4 separate regions of the Homo sapiens genome follow, and all the other regions are linked to region 1. Evidence: fine-mapped expression QTL. A gene starts in region 1. Each other region holds a variant in brackets. All regions are shown on one strand. Distances are between the middles of the regions. Region 1 holds the start of DEF6 (DEF6 guanine nucleotide exchange factor). Region 2 overlaps PPARD (peroxisome proliferator activated receptor delta). Region 3 overlaps ZNF76 (zinc finger protein 76). Region 4 overlaps DEF6 (DEF6 guanine nucleotide exchange factor).

Evidence for each region.
Region 2: its variant is fine-mapped to the expression of DEF6 in whole blood (INTERVAL, PIP above 0.99).
Region 3: its variant is fine-mapped to the expression of DEF6 in whole blood (INTERVAL, PIP 0.93).
Region 4: its variant is fine-mapped to the expression of DEF6 in whole blood (TOPMed, PIP above 0.99).

What each region holds. Positions count from the first base shown.
Region 1 is chr6:35,295,745-35,300,744 of GRCh38, forward strand. DEF6 (DEF6 guanine nucleotide exchange factor) reads left to right here and starts at 2,074. Exons shown (of 11, transcript NM_022047.4): 1 at 2,074-2,208. The coding sequence starts at 2,113. ZNF76 (zinc finger protein 76) reads left to right here. Exons shown (of 14, transcript NM_003427.5): 14 at 1-241. RefSeq lists a silencer at 411-575.
Region 2 is chr6:35,409,797-35,416,021 of GRCh38, forward strand. PPARD (peroxisome proliferator activated receptor delta) reads left to right here. Exons shown (of 8, transcript NM_006238.5): 3 at 1,191-1,421. The coding sequence starts at 1,292. Among named protein-coding and RNA genes, the nearest start is that of FANCE, 39 kb to the right of the region's middle. RefSeq lists enhancers at 859-1,392, 1,393-1,925. The variant C/A (reference allele first, on the strand shown) is at 3,526.
Region 3 is chr6:35,264,109-35,270,333 of GRCh38, forward strand. All of the region lies in intron 1 of ZNF76 (zinc finger protein 76), which reads left to right. Among named protein-coding and RNA genes, the nearest start is that of ZNF76, 7.5 kb to the left of the region's middle. The variant G/A (reference allele first, on the strand shown) is at 3,973.
Region 4 is chr6:35,317,906-35,324,130 of GRCh38, forward strand. It overlaps DEF6 (DEF6 guanine nucleotide exchange factor), which reads left to right. Exons shown (of 11, transcript NM_022047.4): 6 at 1-94; 7 at 268-566; 8 at 1,619-1,785; 9 at 1,914-2,112; 10 at 2,979-3,069; 11 at 3,282-3,866. The coding sequence ends at 3,505. Among named protein-coding and RNA genes, the nearest start is that of PPARD, 22 kb to the right of the region's middle. The variant T/C (reference allele first, on the strand shown) is at 3,764.

The DNA of each region.
Region 1 (5,000 bases):
ACAGTCAATTAATTCCTCAGGGGCCTGTGGCTGAAGAAAAGGTGCCCAGCCCCCACCACTCCTCAGCTGCCCCCCAACCTCTCTATGGCAGAGAGGCAGGGAGTGGCCCTGTACATAGACTGCTGGGGATTGGGTTTGATTTGTTTTGTTTTTTTTAATTCCATTTTGATAATTTTTTTCCTGCTCTGGGTGGTGGTGGCACATGGATGAATGAGTATTTAATAAAAGTTCCAAATTTCCACCTGGGTCCCTCCATCCTTTCAGCTCTAGGCCCGGGTGGCAGGGTTGGTCAAATCAGGCTATCAGCCCTGTCTCCCTGGCACAAACCCCACTCAGCCTTGGTGCCAGAGTGGTGGGGCTGGCCTGCCAGGGACACAGGTGGGAAGGAAGCCCAGTATAAGATAAAGCCCTGAGGAGCTGCTGGTGGCTTCTTGCCCACAGCTGAGCAGGTGGGCTCCAGGGTAGCCAAACAGGACCAGGGTGACCGCTGCTTCCAGGCTCTGGCTGAATCTCAGGCCTCATGTGATTGAGCTGGGGGAACTCTTTTCCTGCCTTTTCTTGTGAAACGTAGTCAGAGCCCCTCCAACCCAGCCACCCCCAAATCACACAGTCAGCTTCTCCAAGAGGGCAAAGCCCCAGGTTAGAGTGAGGCTGGGGGACACCTTTGCCAAGGTTACTGAGATTCAAGGAGCAGAGTCTGATGCCTCTGGAGCTGAAGTCTTGGCTCTATTACCCAGCTCTGGGGGTGCCCACCTAGGTGCCTAGGACTGTGCTGTGGGATTTCAAAGCCACAATCAGACCCCACTGAAAAGTGAGTTGGTGAGACCAGATCAGCTCCAGGGGGAAGAAGGGATACAGGGGAAGGCACTTGATGGGAAGAAGCTCTGGGTTTGACTCTGCCTACACAGGAACATTGCAGGGATTGGTGGTGCCTCTTTTCCTCTCTCTGCTGTGATGGATATGCCCCAACCCCTTCCTGCCTCCTAGGATTGGAACCCCCTCCTCTGATCCAGGCATCCTCTCCCAGGATGCCTAGAAAGCTCCCATTTACTCTTGCCACCAGCTCCTTGGGAAGAGAGGGGCGGGGGCGTGCTTCCAGGCAGGAGGTATTCCCAGCACCTTACTTGGAGGGATTTTTATTTGGCTTAGGGGGTAGGGGGAGGTGTCTTAGAATTGGCCTGAGCAGATGTCTTCAACATCTGTGACCACCATTCCTGGTGTGGGCGTGTCCCAGTCCTTTTGGACACTGGATCTGAAGAAAGGAAGCACTGACATGGAGGGCCCTGAATCCCAAGCCTGCTGCTGCTGGGACCCTTAAAGTTGAGGTGCACCACAAGGCTCACCCCCATGTGTTTCAGGAAGTTTCCAGTGTCTTCAGGGCTACTGGGGCTAGAGTGGGCAGTGCTCTGAGTACCGTTTAGAGCCAGTGCTGAGGGGATAGGGAGCCAGCAAGTCAAGTGCCACATCCTGACCTGGAGAGGTGCCCTGGCCCATTTCCTTCTCCAGCTTTGTGATGTTGCCTTTGTTTCCTTCCACTTGGATGGAGTCCCACCACCATGGTAATGTTAAGTAGCACCAAAAGCTCTACCCAGAGCCTACTATGTGCTTTACGTCCATTCTCAGACATTCTTACAACACGGAGGCATTTTTCCTGCTTTACAAATGAGGAAACTGCTCAAGGAGGTTAAGTAACTTACCCAAGGCCTCCTATGTTGAACTAGGACTGGACCTTTACTCTGTCTGACCCCAATATCAGGATGAGCTTGCTTTTTCCCTCAGCAAGCTGCGTCTGGGAGCCCTGGAAGGCTCCAGAAGCCTCCGGGTCTGAGGAGGCTTCTAAAAGGGCCTCACATGCCCCGGGAGCCACGTGGATACAGAACGAGGGTTCCCGCTCTCGGAGAGTTGGTCCCCAGTTCCCATGCAGGGAGTGGAGCCTCTGAGCACTGCCAGAACAACAGGCAGGGTTCTCGACAGCACAGAGCCTCACGCAATGTGCAGGCAGGTGGTGCTCTCGCTCCACCACGGCACCTCTGCGGTCTCTGCAGCCGTTTGCATTTCCTGAAACCGGATCTTAGTGTCAGAGCCGCCCCCAGCCGGGCGGGCGCCTCAGCCATGGCCCTGCGCAAGGAACTGCTCAAGTCCATCTGGTACGCCTTTACCGCGCTGGACGTGGAGAAGAGTGGCAAAGTCTCCAAGTCCCAGCTCAAGGTGAGGGGCACCCGGGACCCGGGGGAGGACGGCAGATGCACCACACCAGCCCCTGCCGCCTGGGAGCCAGGTGTGGACACTGTGCCACTCCAGGGGCACCCAGCCATCCAGCGTCCCGGGCCTGGGGTCGGGGGGCTGGTCCTGGGTAACTGGGCCAACGTAGCCTGGTAGATGCCGCTGCCCACCCTCCAGAGACCTAGTGAAGTGTGTGCAGAAACCTTGCGCAGAACTGGGCCCCACAACTGGAGGCCAGGAGGTTCTGAGGGCCATTATGGGGTTCTGAGGGCCAGGAGCCAGGCCACATCCCAGACTCTGTGTGATGAGCACACACACCTCCACAGAGTCATGCTTGGGCACGCAGTGTGCTCTTTCTTGCTGCTTCCTCCTGACTTTCAAGAGAAACAGTTAGCCAGTGCTTGGCAGTCATTTCCTCTGGAGCTGAGAGAGGCATAAAGGGGCCGCCCCCAGTCCCAAACCTGTCTGGCCTGTCTAACCCTGCCCGCCAGGTGGGACAGAGCTGCGGAGTGGGTGAGGACTGAGGACCCTATTATACTGCTACGCAGCTCACCCCCCTATCCACCACACATATCAGGTTGGGAAACTTACCTTAGGCCTTGAGACCTCAGGTAGGGAAGGGGGAGAATCTAAGCCCAGGAAAATCCCAATCAATGATTGTCCTGAAGTCAATCATCTGGCCTAGACAATTTCTGGGAGGCCAAGGAGTTTTTCTCTCTCTTCCTCTAGTCCTCCAGTAGTGCTGCCTTCCCTACCCTAGTTAGTGGGGAGGAAGCAAGGCCCTCAGCCACTAGAATCAGCGAACACTGGGGGAAAGGAGCAAGGTAGGCCTCAGCTCTCTAGGACCTGCCATAGGGGTGCCTTCGTTCACTCTGCAAGTACTTGAGTGCCCCTCGTGAGGCTCTGTGCCTGGCATGTGGCTAGGCACTAAACTGGTGTCTCCCTGCCCCATCCTCCAAAGGAGACGTGTGGTCTCAAGGAAACCTCCATTCTTAATGACCGAGGTAGAGGGTGCTGGATACCTGAGAGATGAATGGGACAGAACAGTTATTGTGCCCCACCACCGTTCCAACCCCCTACTTTACTGAACTTGGATGTGAGGAACTTGAATATCCCAAACTGGTCCTATGTTAAATTCCTTACCTGGATTTGTGAGCATCTAATAGATGATTTCACTCCCCCAGGAAGGAGAGCCCACTACTATCTTTTGTCACCTAGGGAGAACCTCCTAACAGGCAGATTCTTCCTTACATCCTATTTAAATCTCTTGTATTGCAGATCATGTCATTTGGTTGGGTCCTCAGTATAAATGGAAAAAAGTCGATCATCCAAAATCCATTTCTGCAAACTCTGTGTCCCACCCCTACCTCCCACCCTGTCCCTTTAATATCTTGCCAGACAATACCAGCCCCCGTGGCTTTTTGCTTCCAGGGTAACATTTTCCACTTCTGTATTACCTGTGGCCACTGAGACCTCTCCAGGCTCTCTCTGCCCTTCACATGGAAAGTACAGCCTTTAAGTGGCTCCCCTTTTCCTGGTGCCATCAGCCAGTAAAGCCTCCTAGCTTGAGCCTCTGTCTTGCCCTCTAAAAGGGCCACTACCCACTCCCTCATCCCCACAGGTTGCGTATTTCTAGGGAAATACTCCATGGAGAGCTTGCATGCTTGAACTGTCCACTGTCTGTACCTCATCACAGCTCATATTGAACCTACTGCCAGCAACATCTCTGGTCACACAGGATCAATTATAGAGTTCCCTCCTACTTGACAGAAAACTTGTCAACTCTGGAAACCTGGGCTAACAGTGGGAGTCTCAGGGGCCAAGTGGGGGTGGGGCGGAAATGGCGGGGCTCCTTTCAAGCCCATAATAGTGAATATTGGAAGAGGAGGAAGTAGTGATAGTGTTGGGGGGCGGGGATTCCAGCAAAGCAAAGGAGTAATAGAGAAGTGGTCAAAAGGCAAAGGAGGAAGCAGACGAGAGAGTTATACAAGCAGGGCCCACCTCTCCCCAGAAAAGACTTGGGGATGAGGGAAAAGACCTTGGAGTCAATCTGGTTTTTTGTTGTTGTTTTAGAGATGAGATCTTGTTCTATCACTCATGCTGGAGTGCAGTGGTGCAGTCATAGCTCACGACAGCCTCAAACTCCTGGGTTCAAGCGATCTTCCTACTTCAGCCTCCTGAGTAGCTGGGACTACAGGCACATGCCACCACGCCTGGCTAATTTTTTTATTTTTTATTTTTTAGAGCCTGAGTCTCATTATGTTGCCCCGGCTGGTTTCAGACTTCTGGCCTCAAGTGATCCTCTGGCTTCTGCCTCCTGAGTAGCTGGAATTATAGTCTTGAGCCACCTCACTGGGCTGGTTACTAAAACCATCCCTAGCGTTAGGGTCCTGGGTTGGAACCTGGCAAGAGACCTGCACTAGCCCAGGGCAAGATGTGTCGGTGCGTGACATTTGCCACTTCTCCCCTAATGTGTTGGTAGACGGGCTCCCAGTGGCTGTCCTGGGCAAACCCACGATGAGGCCAGAGGGTAGGAGGAAGAACAGCACGTCCTCTGAGAAAAGCCCAAGGAGTAGGGTTGTTTCTCCTGGAAAAGAGAAGGCTTGAGGGAAAAACCAGATACTTCTTTCTCTCTTTGAATTCTTGTAGAAAGTACAATGGCTTCATCCAGTTGGGTTGAGAACAGAGAAAGTAAACCAATAGGAATGGCACTCCTGCCCAGGATGGATTTAGGTTGAACACAAAACTTCCCAGGAGTTGAGGGCTGTGAGTTCTTG
Region 2 (6,225 bases), 110 kb after region 1:
TTTTGTACAAACTTGGCTGTACATTACAATCACCAGGACAATTAAAAAATAAGAAACCCAATGTCCAAGCTGCTCCCCAAACCAATCAAAGGAGAATCTCTGGGGATGGGACCAGGCATCTGTCTTTTTAAAAACTCCCCAGTGACTACAGTGTACAGCCGAGTTGGCAGGTCTAGAGCAGGGAGAGAGAGCAGAAGGAGTCTCTGATCACTCCAGGTTCTGGTTCTGATGAGTGGGTAGACAGGCAGGTGGGTTGCTAAAGTAAAGATTACTAGAGGACGAATGGGTTTGGGGAAAATGATGGGTTCTGTTTGGATAGATTGAGTTTGAGCTGTCGGTAAAATATCTGAGAGTTGGGGTCCCACAGATGCTTAACATCTTAAAGCAGATCTTTTCTTCTCCTGATCCTTCCACAAGGTCTGGTGCAGACATTTCCCCGCTGGGAGACTCTCCACAGTACCTCATGATCTTATCATCTCTGACTGTGGCATTTGTGGATAATGTTTTACTTGCTAAGGGTTGGAACTGTCTCCTCCTGGGTGATGTGGACGTGGCATCACCACCCAGTAAGTTGTCACCTTGGAAAGACTCCAGGATGGAGCACATCTTCCTTTTTCTGATGTCTCTGCTATTGAGGCCATGGTTGCAGATCTGCTGTCAACATGAGCCAAGAACAGCAGGGCTTTATGTCTTTTTTCCACACCCAACCACTGAAAGGATGGGACTCACCCCTTCAGGAACAGTAGCACAGCAGAGCCGTGATTCTTGGGCCTGAGTGCTGATAGGGACAGGGTCGGGGATGGGAGGCGTGATGCATATCTGGATCTCCAGGTGGGCTGGAGAGTTGGGAAAAGCCCCTCAAGTCATTCCAATGTGCTTCCTGGAGACTCAGAACAGAAGGCAGCAGAGGAGGCAGGGAAGGGTGGCACAGTGATGTGTCACCTCTCTAGTTTATGGAGCCTGCTCCGAACCCCACAAACCCACTACAAGAGCCAGGTGGGAAGGGTGATAGGGCAGGTGACTTGTGATACAAGGAGCAGAGACCATGGTATAGCACTGCAGGAACTAGGGAAGGAGCAGGAGCAGAAGAACCCCCTCCATGACAGCAGCCCCCAAGCGTGCCCCACTCGCACCATCCTCTTCCTTGTCACTGCCTCCCCTGACCTCTTCCTGTCTTCTCCTCTGCCCAGGCTGATGGGAACCACCCTGTAGAGGTCCATCTGCGTTCAGACCCAGACGATGCCAGAGCTATGACTGGGCCTGCAGGTGTGGCGCCGAGGGGAGATCAGCCATGGAGCAGCCACAGGAGGAAGCCCCTGAGGTCCGGGAAGAGGAGGAGAAAGAGGAAGTGGCAGAGGCAGAAGGAGCCCCAGAGCTCAATGGGGGACCACAGCATGCACTTCCTTCCAGCAGCTACACAGGTGAGGAGAGGACTGGCAGGGGACACGGGGCAGAGGAGGCACAGCCCAGTGCAGTGGGGATCCTGGCCCTCTGCAAACGCCATCATGTGGGGCGCAGAGTAGCAGAGTGCTGAAGGACTGGAGCCGGAAGCCTGGGTTCACGCCCAGTGCGGTGGGGATCTGCTCTGCCACTCACCAGCAGTGGGGCCTGGAGCAAGCTGCACCACTTCCTTCTGTAAAACAGGCCAAAGGATGGTAGGTGATGTGGATATGGGCTTTCGTGAGAATTAAATGAGTGGGCATCTGTAACACATGTCATCATCATTATTAGTATTCCCACCACTGTTAACACAAGGCATCTGAGACCAATCTCCACTAACAGCACACTAGAAAGATCAGCTGTACCTGGGATTGTTATGATCAGTCGAAACACACAGTTCAATTGGTCTGGTAATAATTATACACATCATCATTGAGCCGTATCATAATTAGATAAAAATGCTAAGCAGTTAGTATGAATAACTCAACTAATATTATTTTTATGCAGCCAAGCAGTTGTAGCTTCTCCTGTCTCACTTATTGGTTCCCCTTTATTTATCAGCAGTGCAGACAGTTTTCTCTAGTACCCTGTACTGTTCTGTCATCTTCATCATCATCATGTTATGTTTACCTTCAAAAGCACCCAGAATCCATGCAGCCCCTGGCTTTCCCTGCTGCAGTTCCCCCTGCTTTTTTGTTTTTGTGGTTTTTGAGACAAAGTCTCCTTCTGTTGCCCAGACTAGAGTGCAGTGGCACAGTCTCAGCTCACTGCAACCTCTGCCTCCTGGGTTCAAGTGATTCTCCTGCCTCAGCCTCCCGAGTAGCTGGGATTATAGGCGTGCACCACCACGCCCGGCTAATTTTTGTATTTTTTTAGTAAAGATGGGGTTTCACCATGTTGGCCAGGCTGGTCTCGAACCGCTGGGCTCAAGCAATCCACCCACCTCAGCCTCCCAAAGTGCTGGGATTACAAGCAGGAGCCACCGCGCCTGGCCTGATCCCTCTGCTTCTTGCTTTCTCCCACCACTTCTCTCCTTACCCAAGTGCTGCAGGCCTGCACATGCAGCTCATCCTCGCTCCTCCCCTTAGAGGGAACTCAGGGTCATAAGGATATACTGCTGGGAGTAGACACCCTGCACTCGCTGCTGCTTTCAGCTGCAGGAGATCCTAGCCACAGGCGGTGACTCAGGCAGAGGAGCAAGCCCACCCCGCAGAAATGGGCTCTGGACCCCTGTGACTGCATGGAGCAGGAGGAGGCAGTTAGTGTCCAAGCTAAGGCAGGGTGAAGGCTGTGGAGGTAGCGCAGGCTCCTGTTTGGGTCTGCAGCTAAGATGGGTCTGAATCCTGGAGCCACACCACCTTGAACCTGCAAAGCAAGTCCCAGAATTTTGCAGAAGTTCTTCCTCTTCAGTGTATAGAGTTGGGTGGAGGGAGTATAGAGCCATCATTCAGTCCTTCTCATCTCACCCAGGATCACCTGGGAGTGACCAAAGTAGGCCAAATGTGATTCTAGGGCCAAAGTGAAGGTGTCCGCCATTCCCCGAGTAAGCAACTTCCTGTCTATTGGCTGGTAACTGGGATGGCTTTGGAGACACAGCCTGTCTCAGAAGAGAGGAACAGCTAACCAGGAGTGATAATTCACTCAGTGCCAGTAGCACATACTGTTCTAAATCTGAAGAAGGTAGGGAGGGTTAGAAAGCAAAGGGAAGACAGTGGGGACTAAGAATGAGTGTGGGATGTCATGAGGATTCAGGGGAGAATGCAAGGAGAAGAGACGGCCACAGGGTTTGTGGCTATGCCGCCTGCCGTGGCCCACCTCATCCCCACATCTGAGCCCAGGCAGATGGAAGTCCCCTGCAGAGCAGTGTTCTGTCCTGGAGTTTCCTCCACACCCCTTCTTGGGACCAGGGCTGTTTCCCAAATAGCATCACTGTTCCCGTGCAGGCCAGGTGAGGTGCCTGGGAGCAGGGGTAGGGTGAGGCAGGCATGGCGGTGACCTCTCAGGCAGCTTCGTTGTGGGATTTAGGGCACAGCGGGAAACGTCCAGGGCAGAGGTTGCCTCACCAGTCACATGGTACTATGTAGG[C/A]GGTGGTGTTTAATAGATTCTGTTTATCAATAAGTGGATGAAGTGGAGATAGACTTCCTTGTTCAGTCATTGAAACAGGAGAGAGGGTTACTTGACATAATCACTTTGTGTTAAAGCTGTAGTGTATGAAAAGTTCCCAAAAATTCTACAAGACAAGCAACCTAGCAGGAAAATCAGAACAGGTAACAGTAAGACAAATACGAATGGCCTGAAATCCCGACAGGTTTTTCAGTCTAACCAACTCAAAGAAAGCACCTTAAGTTGCAATGCCATTTCACCTGTCAGATGGGTGGGGAGGACTTGGTCCTCCCACCACCAGGGGTGAAAGGGTAGTGTGGGCCAACACTTCTTAATGTGTGATTCTTTTTTTTTTTTTTTGAGACAGAGCCTGGCTCTGTCGCTCAGGCTGGAGTGCAGTGGCACACGATCTCAACTCACTGAAACCTCTGCCTCCCGGGCTCAAGCGATTCTCCTGCCTCAGCCTCCCAAGTAGCTGGAATTACAGGCGTGCACCACCGTGCCTGGCTAATTTTTGTATTTTTAGTAGAGATGGGGTTCCACTGTGTTGGCCAGGCTAGTCACGAACTCCTCAGGTGATCCTCCCGCCTCGGCCTCCCAAAGTGTTGGGATTTCAGGTGTGAGCCACCACACCTGGCCAAGTGTGCATTTCTTTTACCCTGCATTCCCACTTCTAGGAACGTGTCCTGTGTAAGTACTTGCTCAGCATGCTCAGAGATTCCCATGCCAGCTTATTTACTGCAGGACTGCTCATAAGAGCAAAAATAGGAACGTGCCCATCTGTGGGGAACTGGTTATGTAAACTGTGGTAGAGCCATATGGTGGAATACTCTGGAGTCATTGAAAAGGATAAGGCTGGTTTATATATATATTAAATAAGTTCCTGACAAGTTGGGGATCCCATTGTTTAAAATCCTTATGTTTCATAGAAGGCACCGGAAGAGTCTATACCGAAGGACTCAGGGGCTAACTCTGAGGAGCAGGATCATGGTTAAGGAGGCTGTGTCATAAGATCCTGCATACCCTTCTGTGTTTTTCTCAACAAGTCTGCACTACTTCCATAATTTGAAAGGCAACTGTACTTTTTTTAAGGGTAAAATTAACTGTTTAAAAGGGGGGTGAGGATCTGGCAGGTGAGGGGCCCTGGAGACAGAGCCTGATCATGTGTCCAGAGCAGAAGGGCTTGGAGATCACAGAGACCAGGGCAGGCATCCCAGGTCTGTCACTGTGAGCTGTAGCCCTCGCCAGTGCCATCACTTCTCCAAGTCTCATTCTCTTCACCTTTATAGGCTGTGTCCTACCCAGCCTGAGGGCCAGCCAGGTGAGAGTCAGTGGGGGTATGTGACACATCGCAGGTCTCAGCACCTGCTAGTTCTCTGCCCCATCCCCATGAGTTATTACTTTGGCCTCGGGAGTCCCCTGAGGGACCCATAAGGACAGCGCACAGCTTTGAGCCCTGAAACAGCAGGAAGGCTCCACAGTCACCCCTGACCACCCTCCTCAGCAGTTCAGCACTGACTCTCAGTGCAGATATTGAGCTCAACACCTGCCATGCACCTTCTCACCCTCCCCCCAGCCAGGCAGGACAGACCTTCCCATCAACAAGGAAACTGAGGTTACCAGAAACCCACTTGCCAGGGTCCCCTGGGCGTGTAGGAGTAGAGACAGCTAGAGCCAGGATTCACCTCCCATTCCCATTCTCATCCCTCCTGCTTCAGTGACATCCATCCCAATCACCCTTGAGAAAGAGGAAGATAAAGTGTCCTTCCTCCTGGCCTCAGCACCTCCTCACTTGGCAAGCACTTGGTGGGCATCAGGCTGGGCCCAGCACTGTGCCCAGGGCTGGCCATACAGTGGTGGACAAGGCTGAGTGCCTGTCCCAAGGAGCCCACAGTTCAGGCAAACAGGACAGCAGAAGTAAAGAGGCTGCTCAGTAACCCAGCCTCAAATCCCTGCAGAATTTGGCCTGACTTCAGAAGCTGCTGGGTGCTTGTTTGCCTGTGAGCTCTGCCAGCAAAGTAAATAGACCAATCGGGCGCCTCCTGGCTGTCTTCACAGCCATGACAACGGCATTCTCCCAGCATTGGAGGCTAGATATGCAGGAGAGCTCTCAGCCACAAATGATGTGAATAAGGTCAATAGTGTCTATTTGCTGAACTTGTCATCAAAGATGGTGAAACTGATACTTTACTCTCTGGGTGAGAGGGCTAGTGTTTACACTGAATCCAAACATTTGGATAATGACATGGTGCCTCCTCAGCAGTGACTGTGTCTTCTTGTTCATCATAATAATGTTATTGATTAGCGGTACTGAACATGTAGGTATGCGTAGTAGTGAGATGCCGAGGTTAAGAGCTCAGCTCCAGGAATTGCATGGTTCTAGGTTATAATTCTTGCTCTGTCACTGTATTAGTCAGGGTTCTCCAGAGAAGGAGAACCTGTGTGTGTGTGTGTGTGTGTGTGTTGAAAGAAAGAGATGTGTTTTAACGAATTGGTTCACACAGTTGTTGGAGTGGCAAGTCCAAATTTTGAAAGGCAGGCAGGCTGGAGAGCCGGGGAAGTTGATGTTGCAGCTCAAGTCCAAAGGCAGCCTGGAGGCAGAATTTCCTGTTCCACAGTGGGGCCACGGTAGGCACTCAGTCTTTTTTCTTAAGGCCTTCAGTTGTTGGATGAGGGCCACTC
Region 3 (6,225 bases), 31 kb before region 1:
TACCTGTTGGATTAAATTAACTCACTCAGAAATTCTGCATCAGGTGTACAAAAGTAAAAGCAGTTCATGTCTACATTCATTTTGTGGACACAACACCCCTCCCCAAAGTTCTCCAAACATGATAATGGGCATGTCCCTTGATTTAAACGTCGGTAATTTAGACACTTCCTTTTTTAGTCATTGCTCGGGTGGGGGAATGGGTGTAAGTGCTTTTCTTTTTCTACTGTATTTCTGGTAAGATAGGTTGTTTGACGCAGTTGCTCAAATACAGTGGTAACAGCATCAGGGGCTGTCTTATATAAATCTGTTCTCAAGAAAACAGCTAGTTTGAAATATTTAGTGTGGGTTGCAGAGACGATTAAGGAACAGAGGAAACCAAGGAGGCAAAATGTTGGTAATTTTTGAAGTTGGATAATGGGTTCAAGAGGTTCATTATACCATTCTTTCCATTTTTGTGTATGTTGGAAATCCATTATAAAAAGATTAAAGGCAGGGGCAGCTAGGTGAACAAGTGCAAATTTAGCACTGTTCCTTGGAAAACACCTCAGAGCAAATGAGCTACTGTTTCTGAATCAGTACTGTTATCTAGGTTAAGTAGTATATTTAGTCCTAACCTTTCTCTGACCTCTTCTGTTTGTGAGATATCAGGATGCTAAATTTAAAAATTAGCACCCTGCAGAATTCTGTACCTAGTGGCCTGGGAATTGTAACATCCTGGCATCAAGCACCTGTTGCACTGCTTCTCAGCTTAGGTATGGTTTCTGGTGGAATAGGGCTGGACTGGACCTGAGAAGAGGGTGAGGCAGTAAGGAGGAAAGAGGGACTGAGGGCTGGAGAGAGACCAGAGCTCTACTAGGGTCTTCCCCTTCTTGCCTAAAGGTTTCAAGTTACTGGGAGATCCTAAAGGTATATATATTCATTCATTCACTGATTCATTCATCCCACAAATATTTGGTGAATATCTGCTGTGTGCCAGGTACTTTTCTAGGTACTGGGAATAGAGCAGTGAGCTCACTGTTTGAGGAATGGACAGGGTAGAGACAGACAATAAACAAATAAGTAAAATATATATTGAGAAAATTAAGCAGAGAAGGGAGATAGAAAGTGCCAGGAGTAGGCCAGGTGCAGTGGCACACACCTGTAATCCCAGCACTTTGGGAGGCTGGGTTGGGTAGATAACATGAGGCCAGGAGTTTGAGACCAGCCTGGCCAACATGGCGAAACCCCAGCTCTACTAAAAATACAAAAATTAGCCAGGCGTGGTGGCAGGCACCTGTAATCCCAGCTACTCGGGAGGCTGAGGCACGAGAATCACTTCAACCCAGGAGGCAGAGGTTGCAGTGAGCTGAGATCACGCTGCTGCACTCCAGCCTGGGCGACAGAGCGAGACTCTGTCTCAAAAAAAAAAAAAAAAGAAGAAGAAGAAGAAGAAAATGCCAGGATTCTGGGTGTTAAAATTTTAAATAGGGTAGTTGAAGAGGTTCCCACTAAAAAGGTAACATTTGAGCAAAGACCTGAAGGAAGTTAGGGGGTAAGTCAAGCATACATCTAGGGGAAATTTATTCCAGTCAGGAAGAACAGCAAACACAAAGGCCCTGAGGCAGGAATGTGCCCTATATATTCAAGAAACATGAGGAAGCCAGCCAATACGGCTGCAGTATATTAGTGAGAGAAGAAATGGCAGATGTTGCGGTGGGGGTGAATTGGGGGCAGATCACACAGGCCACTGGCTTGTAGTGTGAGTTGTGAGTGAGATGGTAGCCATTAGAGAATTCTAGGCAGATAAATAACATGGCCTGACATATTGAAAAGGTCATTGTGGCTGCTGTGTTGAGAATAAGCTATAACGGGGCAAAAATGGAAGGAGAGAAACTGGTTAGGAGGCTACTACAATAGTCTAAACAAGAGAAGTTGGTGGCTTGAACCCAAGGTGAAGCAATGGAAAGGTGAGAAGTGGTTGGCTTCTGGATGTATTTGGAAAGGAGCCAACAGGATTTGCTGATGGACTGGATGTGATATATAAAAGAAATAGCAGTTGAGGGTGGCTACAATTTTTTTTTTTTTCAAGACATCTCGCTCTGTCGCCCACGGTGGAGTGCAGTGGCGTGATCTCAGCTCACTGCAACCTCCGCCTCCTGGGTTCAAGTGATTCTTCTGCCTCAGCCTCCTGAGTAGCTGGGACTACAGGTGCATGCCAGCGCACCCGGCTAATTTTTGTATTTTTAGTAGAGATGGGGTTTCACCATATTTGCCAGGCTGGTCTCAAACTCCTGAACTCGTGATCTGCCTGGCTCCCACATTTTTGGCCTAAGTAACAAAATGGTAAAATTCCCATCTACTGAAATTGGGGAGCCTGGAAGGAGGGCAGGTTGTTAGAAGGAGGAGATAAGGAATTCACTCTTGAACATGTCAAGTTCGAAGTGTTTTTTGGATATCAAAGTCGAGATGTTGAGTAAGCAGCTGGATATTCAAGTCTTTTGGAGCCTAGGAAATGTCTACTCTCAGGAAATAAAAGAACACCATCACCTGGCAAGAGACAGCGGAGTATGGGAAGAACACTGGTGGTCAGGTGTTAGGCCCTGCTCTGCCACCAGGTAGCTATGTGATCCTTTGGGACTCCTCTGGCAACGCAGGCCTCTGTCTCTTCATCTGCAAAATGACTGCTTTATTTTATTTTATTGTCTATTTCTTTTTTTTTTTTTTTTTTTTTTGAGACGGAGTCTCGCTCGTCACCCAGGCTGAAGTGCAGTGGCGCCATCTCGGCTCACTGCAAGCTCTGCCTCCCGGGTTCACGCCATTCTCCTGCCTCAGCCTCCTGAGTAGCTGGGACTACAGGTGCCCACCACCGCGCCCGGCTAATTTTTGTATTTTTAGTAGAGACGGGGTTTCACCGTGTTAACCAGGATGGTCTCTATCTCCTGACTTTGTGATCCGCCCGCCTTGGCCTCCCAAAGTGCTGGGATTACAGGCTTGAGCCACTGCATCCGGCCCCTTATCTGTTTCTTTGACAAGGTCTTGTTCTGTCACCCAGGCTGGAGTGCAGTGGCGCAATCATGGAGGCTCACTGCAGCAGTGACCTCTCCAGCTCAATCAGTCCTCCCATGTCAGCCTCCTGAGTAGCTGGGACTACAGAGATGGGCACCACCACGCCTAGCTAATTTTTGTATTTTTGGTAGAGAGGGTTTCACCATGCTGCCCAGGCTGGTCCTGAACTCCTGGGCTCAAGCCTCCACCTGCCTCGGTCTCCCAAGGTGCTGGGATTACAGGCATGAGTCACCACACCCAGCCAAAATGACCACTTTAGACTAGGAATGAGTTGTGTTCTCAGCCCCTCCTATTGTGGGAGTTGATGAATTAAGTGCTTAGAATAAACATGATAATATATGTGTATCTGAGAGCATTTTGGAAACTGCTGAGTTCTACACCAGGTAGTGGTATTGGCAATAAGATTTCTTCCTTCATTCGCTGAAGTAATACCCAGTGAGTGCCTGCCATGTGGTGGGCACTATGTCACATGAGGATACGATGATGGAGAAGACGAATCTGTGCCCTCAGGGAGCACCGCAGACAACCCCCTGTTGTGGCTTCACTGCCAAGTGCAGACGAAACATGGGGCTGGAGTGTGACATTAGCCAGGGAAAGCTTGTTCCTGATCTGGGTCTCCGTGGAAACAGTGAACGTGCATGTCAAAGATGAGGCAAGATGGTAATCCCGATGAGGGAAAAGTCATCCACTTAGCTGGACTAGGGAAGAGTTGGGAGTGGTTGGGAAGGGTTGGAGTGGTGGGGGCTTCAGTTCCTTCCCTCCTCCATTCTTTCGTTCAACATTTACTTCCTTGCCAGGAGCTTCTCTTAGAAGCTCACAGTTCTGTGGTAGATGAAGAGTTTCATATCTGGTCTCAGGAGTTCAACTTAGATATTACAATAAGCAGAACTGAATCAGGATTCAAATCTGAGCTAAAGAGCTCAGTTA[G/A]CTATGTAACCTAGTAGTATTAATCATTTGGTATCTGTGGGCACATTCTTTGTTAGGTGCTAATTAGGCTGAAAGGCATGCTCTCCAGGAACTTAAATTATAATCACTGTAACAGAAAGTAAGAATGTTATTTTCCCCTAAAAGAGTCAGGTGTTAAGGAAAACACACTCCGTGGCAGTGTAACCCTTTAACTGCATCTGGAAACTGTCCCTGTGGCTGTGTTTATTCTTGTGTCATTTAGATGTCTACGTTTATATCGTGAGGAGAGTCTCTTTGACCAGATAAGAGTATAAGATATAGCTCATCCTAATTGACAAAATTAGTCACCCACAAAATTAGTTTAGAGGAGACATAGTCAACATCTACCACGTAATGGAATGGGGAAATTTTGTCCTGGAGAGTGAAAAAAGAAAAAACAAACAAACAAAAAAAACGAAACCTGGCCGGGTGTAGTGGCTCACACCTGTAATCCGCACTTTGGGAGGCTGAGATGGGCAGATCACGAAGTCAGGAATTCAAGACCAGCCTGGCCAACATGGTGAAACCCCATCTCTACTAAAAATACAAAAATTAGCTGGGCATGGTGGCGTGCAGGAGAATTGCTTGAACCAGGACCCAGGAGGCGGAGGTTGCAGTGAGCCAAGATCGCACCATTGCTCTCCAGCCTGGGCTATAGAACAAGACTTCATCTCAAAAAGAGAGAAAAAAAAAAAAAAAACCACCTGCAATACAAATCCAAGTGCAGCTGAAGCCATTGTCTTTAACAGATGGCCCTAACCTGTTTTGAGTGCTGTTTCCTAAAGCTGCCAACAAACTTCAAATGCCTTTTACCCTGGCAGCTATCAGTCAAGATATAGAAATGTGATGGTCTCACAAATCCTATGCAATTGTCTCTTTTGCTGGCAAAAGTATGAGGCCAGCCGGGTGTGGTGGCTCATGTCTGTAATCCCAGCACTTTGGGAGGCTGAGGCGGGTGGTTCACCTGAGGTCAGGAGTTCGAGACCAGCTTGGCAAACATGGTAAAACCCCATCTCTACTAAAAATACAAAAATTTGCCGGGCATGGTGGCAGGCGCCTGTAGTCCCAGCCACTGGGGAGGCTGAGGCAGGAAAATAGCTTGAACCTGGGAGGCGGAGGTTGTGGTGAGCTAAGATCATGCCATTGCACTCCAGCCTGGGCGACAGAGCGAGACTCTGTCTCAAAAAAAAAAAAAAAAAAAAAAATGTATGAGGCGTACTCAGGCTCCTCTCTTCCAGTTCAGAATCAGAAGGATTTGTGATGTTGGACAGGTCATTCGGGGTCTCAGGCTCATTATACTGTCATTACCTGGAAGCCAGAGTGCCTCTTTTCTAGTGCCTCTATTTGACATTCCCTTAGAGCTGGCCCTCTGGTGAATAGTTCATCCCTAAGAAGGCCAGATACAACTTGTTACCCTGGTACTATCTCACTTCATCACTTCATTTGTTGGGAGTTCCTGCTACTTTTGGATGGTTGATAAAGCATGAGACCCATACAGTTAAGATAAGAACCAAGGAACTGGGAGCTCTTTGAGGTTGTAGAACTGACTTGAGGCTTTGATGTTGGGGATTTGGCAGGGGTGCCTAAGACCAGAGTTCTTTCTCTGAGATCATCTTCTCAACCCAGGAAATACTGTCCTGTGGCCACATGGAGCAATGAAGGGGAAAGGTAGACCCTGCTTAGGCCACCACTTCGTCCAGACCCACCCTTGTGACCAGGCTGGGGACACACATGTTGAAGCCACCATGTCCTCAGGTCCTGTATAGACTTGCTGTTGCCTCATGCTCAGCTGATCAGCTTTCCATATGATGTTATAGAATGGCCTCCATGAATCACGAAGCTCAGTTTTCGGATGTGCTTTTGCTGTAGATCAGTAACATGGAATCCATCATATCAACACTGGACTCTCCATTCCTCATGTATGGAGAATCATAGATATTCCTGTAACCAACAAAGGGAGTACAAAGCATGCATTTAGACTTTCTATTTTTAATTTTTTATTTATGTTGCGTAGGTAACACATTCTCAAGGCTTTTTTTATTTTTATTTTTTTATTGAGACCAAGTCTTGCTCTGTCGCCCAAGCTGGAATGCAGTGGTGCAATCTTGGCTCACAGCAACCTCTGCCTCCTGGGTTCAAGTGATTCTCCAGCCTCAGCCTCCCAAGTAGCTGGGCCTACAGGCACGTGCCACCATGCCCAGCTAATTTTTGTATTTTTAGTAGAGATGGGGTTTC
Region 4 (6,225 bases), 23 kb after region 1:
GACGGAAAGCGCTGCATGTTCTGTGTGAAGACAGCCAACCGCACGTATGAGATGAGCGCCTCAGACACGCGCCAGCGCCAGGAGTGGACAGCTGGTGAGTGCTCGCTAGGTGGCTTGGGTCTGGGTGGTCCTTAGGCGCCTCATCTGTGAAAAGGGGGTGATAATACTTTGTCCAGCGGGAGGTTGGAGAGTGGACTCGGGAAACTCCTAAGGCCCCTTTCGGGCCGTGTGCGAGGATCCTACTGACCCGCTCCCGCTCTTCGGCAGCCATCCAGATGGCGATCCGGCTGCAGGCCGAGGGGAAGACGTCCCTACACAAGGACCTGAAGCAGAAACGGCGCGAGCAGCGGGAGCAGCGGGAGCGGCGCCGGGCGGCCAAGGAAGAGGAGCTGCTGCGGCTGCAGCAGCTGCAGGAGGAGAAGGAGCGGAAGCTGCAGGAGCTGGAGCTGCTGCAGGAGGCGCAGCGGCAGGCCGAGCGGCTGCTGCAGGAGGAGGAGGAACGGCGCCGCAGCCAGCACCGCGAGCTGCAGCAGGCGCTCGAGGGCCAACTGCGCGAGGCGGAGCAGGTGGGGTTAGCTCCCGGCGCCGGGGACGGGACCGGTGGGCTGGGAGGCTGGCCAGGGGCGGAGCGCCGGGGGCGGGGCCTGGGCAGAGGGCGGAGCTCCTGGGTTGAGGGGCGTGCACTGGGGTGGAGCTTGAAATGAGGGATTGTTGGGACAGAGTCCGCGGGTTTGAAAAAGAGATTTGGGATGGGGCTTCCGCCAGGGACAGAACCTGGGGCTAGGAAAGGGGTGTGGGGCGAGGTCCGAGCCCGTGGATGGATGGGGCCTGGTTCGGAGACCTTGGCTGTGGGTTGGGGCTTGGGCAGAAGGAGCCGTTGAAGACCGTGTGATTGGGGATTAGACTGGACCAAGTTTGGACTAGACTTGAACTAAGTTTACAGTGAAACCAGTTTGAGAGGCAAGCGGGACGCGTATGGAGGCGGACTAGGTGTGCAGAGGCAATTAGATTTAGGATTTAAGAAACCTGGATCTGGAGTCAGAAACACGTAGATTCAATCCTAGCTCTGCTTCTTACGAGCCCCGTGATCCCAGGCAAGTTCATTTTACTGAGCCTTATCAGTAAAATGCTAATGCTAATAGAACTTTGCTCACAGAGGTACGGTGAGGATTAAATGAGGAAACACTTGTAGTGTCCAGTAACTTTTTGTTGTAATAATTGTAGTTATAGTCACATCCTTCCTAGCATCAGCCATGATTATAACATATTATTATATATTATAATAATTATTAAGTTAGTGCTAGGAAGGAGATGACCATATTTTTATATCTTATTTAATTATATAATGTTGTTTAATTACATGTTATATAATTATGATTAAGGTTGGTACTAGGAAGGAAATAACTTGAGCCCGTTTCCCCCACGTGGCATCTGTTCACCGACCATTATCTGTTCCAGTCAGGCTCTCAGAAAGGGGTCAGATCAGGAAACCCCAACATGAAGGAGTTCCCCAGACCCTCACCCCTAGGCAGCTTAGCAACATGCCCACCCCCTCCTCCTCCGCCCCCACGTGCCCCTTTTGACCTGGCTCTTGGTCCACCACCTCCCCCCTCCACAGGCCCGGGCCTCCATGCAGGCTGAGATGGAGCTGAAGGAGGAGGAGGCTGCCCGGCAGCGGCAGCGCATCAAGGAGCTGGAGGAGATGCAGCAGCGGTTGCAGGAGGCCCTGCAACTAGAGGTGAAAGCTCGGCGAGATGAAGAATCTGTGCGAATCGCTCAGACCAGGTAGGCCTGAGGAACCTCTTCTGGTTCTCTCACCACCCCTCCTGGAACACACCCCAGTTTTCCTGCTTGCTGTGCACCTGCAAGGTGCCTTGGCACTAGAGGCTACACAGTACACACTCACCCGGCAGACTGCTGGAAGAGGAGGAAGAGAAGCTGAAGCAGTTGATGCAGCTGAAGGAGGAGCAGGAGCGCTACATCGAACGGGCGCAGCAGGAGAAGGAAGAGCTGCAGCAGGAGATGGCACAGCAGAGCCGCTCCCTGCAGCAGGCCCAGCAGCAGCTGGAGGAGGTGCGGCAGAACCGGCAGAGGGCTGACGAGGATGTGGAGGTGAGGCCTGGGGTGGGATGGGGTGGAGGCTGGCAGGGTGAGCTCATTAGGGCACAGGCTCTGGAGCCAGGCTGCCTTCCCTCAAACCCTGGCCCTAGCAGCTGCTGGCTGTGTGACTTTGGACAAATGCCCAAACTTCTTGGAGTTAGTCTCTCACCTGGGAAACTGGTAATAGCGTTGTTATGAAGATTAAATGAGATGATACATGATACTTAGTACGTAGTAAGTGCTGAAGAAACATTTGCTGCTATCTTTGTTCACATCATTATTAATCTGGGGAAAAATTTTTCCTTCTACCCTTCCAAGCCCCTGTCTTGCTATCCTTGTACTTTGGCTCTACTCCTTGGAGCTTTAATCTCCATAAATTCAAACACAGAAATATGGAACATAGAAAGGGAAAATTCCTCCATGATCCCCCCCACCTCACAACCACTGCTAATGGCTCCGTGAAATGTTGAACAGAGGTTCTTGGATTAGGTGCTGGAAAGGTGGTGTAGTGCAGTGGCTTAGAGCTCAAGTGTATCCCTGGGCAAGTCACTTAACCTCTTTTGAACTTTTTTGTTGTTAACTTCTGCTCTGGAAGTTAAATAAGATAATAAATATGCTTAGCACATCTTAGCTGCTCAATAAACGGAAACTATTATTATGGTTACATTTTATCTTTTGGAAGTCCATGAGTCCCATGAAATTGGAGGCAAACTCTATTCATGTATGTATTAATAACTCTATGAGCATATATGGTTTTTCTCTGGGGAGATGATCAGTAGTCTTGGTCAGATTTTAAGCAGCCTGCGAACCTGAAAAGATCAAGACTCCATGCCATGGATGATGGTTCTGATCACTCCCCACTGGCCCTGTCCCCACAGGCTGCCCAGAGAAAACTGCGCCAGGCCAGCACCAACGTGAAACACTGGAATGTCCAGATGAACCGGCTGATGCATCCAATTGAGCCTGGAGGTGAGAAGGAATAGACTCTGGAGCTTTCCCTGGAGCTGGGAGGGAGAAAGGAGGGAGAAAGGTCTCCCTGGGAGACCTCCAGATCTCCCAGGGCCAGCAAAAGCAGGACTGGCAGTCAGGAGGCTCCCCTCTCCTCTGAGGGCTGAGGCAAGGCCCCTCGCCTCTCACCTTTGCATGCCTTTCTCCTTACTTGCCTGCCTTCTCTCTGCCAGATAAGCGTCCGGTCACCAGCAGCTCCTTCTCAGGCTTCCAGCCCCCTCTGCTTGCCCACCGTGACTCCTCCCTAAAGCGCCTGACCCGCTGGGGATCCCAGGGCAACAGGACCCCCTCGCCCAACAGCAATGAGCAGCAGAAGTCCCTCAATGGTGGGGATGAGGCTCCTGCCCCGGCTTCCACCCCTCAGGAAGATAAACTGGATCCAGCACCAGAAAATTAGCCTCTCTTAGCCCCTTGTTCTTCCCAATGTCATATCCACCAGGACCTGGCCACAGCTGGCCTGTGGGTGATCCCAGCTCTTACTAGGAGAGGGAGCTGAGGTCCTGGTGCCAGGGGCCCAGGCCCTCCAACCATAAACAGTCCAGGATGGAACCTGGTTCACCCTTCATACCAGCTCCAAGCCCCAGACCATGGGAGCTGTCTGGGATGTTGATCCTTGAGAACTTGGCCCTGTGCTTTAGACCCAAGGACCCGATTC[T/C]TGGGCTAGGAAAGAGAGAACAAGCAAGCCGGGGCTACCTGCCCCCAGGTGGCCACCAAGTTGTGGAAGCACATTTCTAAATAAAAACTGCTCTTAGAATGAATTATTGGCTCAGGTCTGTCCATCTCTCCTGCCATTTCCTCCCTTCCTCCCTCAAGCCCCGTTATAGGTTCCAAAGAGCAGTAAAAGTATAATAAAGTGGTTAAGAAAGACCCTGCAGCTAGACTGCCTGGGTTCTGAACCTGGCTTTGCTACTTACTAACTGATTGACTTTGGTCAATTTTCTTTATATCTCTGTGTTTCAGTTCCCACGTTGGTAAAATAGAGATAATGACTGTACTTACCATATAGGGTTATATGAGGATTAAGTGGCACACGAGCAAGCACCATTATTAGAATCAGCCAAAAGTGTTTATTGAGTGTCTACTGCAGTTTTCCAGGTTATTTAATTCTCATGACAACTCTTAGAGCTGGAAATCACCATTGGCATTTTACAAATGGATGAATTGAGGTTCAGAGAGATTTGGCAACTTTACCAAAGCCTTTCAGACTTGCTTTTCTTCCCATCATCTCTGACTCGCTGACCTTGTTAGCCAAGACAGAGATCTGGGTATTTAGGAAGATTCATGTCCTCTCTCTCAGCCCCCTCATCCAAACCCCATCATCAAATCCAATAGACTCTCTCCTTCCTACTCTCCTATCTGTCCCTCCTTTTCCATCCCCATGGCTACTGCCATGGCTGAGGCCTTTGTGTTTTCTACCTGGTTGTTAACCTTTAACTCCTCCTCCGTCTTGCCCATCTCACCAAGTCCAACTGATTGGACTTCCTTGGTTACTCTCAGATCCACACTTTTGAGGCCATGTCTGTCATGGCTACTGCCTTATTCTGGCTCTTGTCACTTCCCAACTAGATAAGAGCAGTAACCAGGTCTCCTTGTCAACCCCTCTCCCCATTGCCACCTGGATAGGATTTCTAAAATGCAGATTTGTCCTTCACTCTTCCTAATTTCCAGTCCCTTGGTGGTATCCTAGAGTTTTGATATTTAAATTCACATTCCCATATGTGGCAGATGAGGCCCATGGCGATCTGTCCCAGGAGGGCCTCCTATGCCTCTGCCTTATAGAGCTACTTGCAGCTCCCTCTAGGCCTCACACTGACTTCCTTTCCCCCATCCTTGTAACAGCCTTCATAACTAAATGCTTGAGCCCCTCAAGGGCAGGGACATATCTTCTTGAACTAAGAGCCACGGTGATTGGCTCTTAGAAGGCATGCAACAAATATTTGTCAAATACATATATGAATGAATAAATTCTGAAGTGAATAATTCAGGTGTCACAAAGCTAAAAAGTTATAGAGCAGCTGAAATTCAAGTTCATTCGTTTTCCAGGTCCCTACAAGAGACAGGGTCTCTACAAAACTCGGCTGGCCTCCAACTCCCGGGCTCAAGCAGTTTTCCCGCCTCAGCTTCCCAAAGTGCTGGGATTATAGGCAGGAGCCAATGCACTCTGCCCTCATTCAACAAATGTTTATTAAGCTCTTATTATATGCCAGCTTCTGGCTATATTGTACAGAACAAAAACAGAGTCCCTGCCTTCCTGGAGTTTATGTGCTATCTGATTTTTTGAAACCAAGTCTCCAGGCTGGAGACTGTGCCTGATCAGTCTCCAGGCTGGAGCACAGTGCCTGATCAGTCTCCAGGCTGGAGCACAGTGCCTGATCAGTCTCCAGGCTGGAGCACAGTGCCTGATCTTGGTTCACTGCAACCTCCACCTCCCAGGTTCAGACGACTCTCCTATCTCAACCTCTGGAGTAGCTGGGATTACAGGCGTGTGCCACCACACCTGGCATTTTTTTGTTGTTTTGTACTTTTAGTAGAGACATGGTTTCACTACGTTGGTCAGGCTAGTCTCGAAATCCTGGCCTCAAGTGATCTGCCCGCCTCAGCCTCCCAAATTGCTGGGATTACAGGTGTGAGCCACTGCACCTGATTTACTTTGCAAATACACTAAACCTGATTGCAAGGAACTTCATTACAGTCTATTTAAAGTGTCGTGAAACAAAGCTGCTAATATAATGAGGCAGATTTCAAGGATGAGCGGTGAAGCTCAAAGTGCTGTAGGAATTCAGAGAAAAGGAAGTTTTAGGTAGGAGCTGGGATTTGGGATGGCCTTTACTTTTTAATAAAGGCAGCTGGGTGCAGTGGCTCACACCTGTAATCCCAGCACTTTGGGAGGCCAAGGTGGGTGGATTGTTTGAGTTCAGGAGTTTGAGACCAGCCTGGGCAACATGGCGAAAACCCATCTCTACAAAAAATACAAAAAAAAGTTAGCCGGGTGTGGTAGCAGACACCTGTAGTCCCAGCTACTTAGGAGGCTCAGGTGGGAGGATCACCTGAGCCCAGGAGGTTGAAGCTGCAGTGAGCTGTGATCGTGCCACTGCACTCCAGACTGGGTGATAGAGT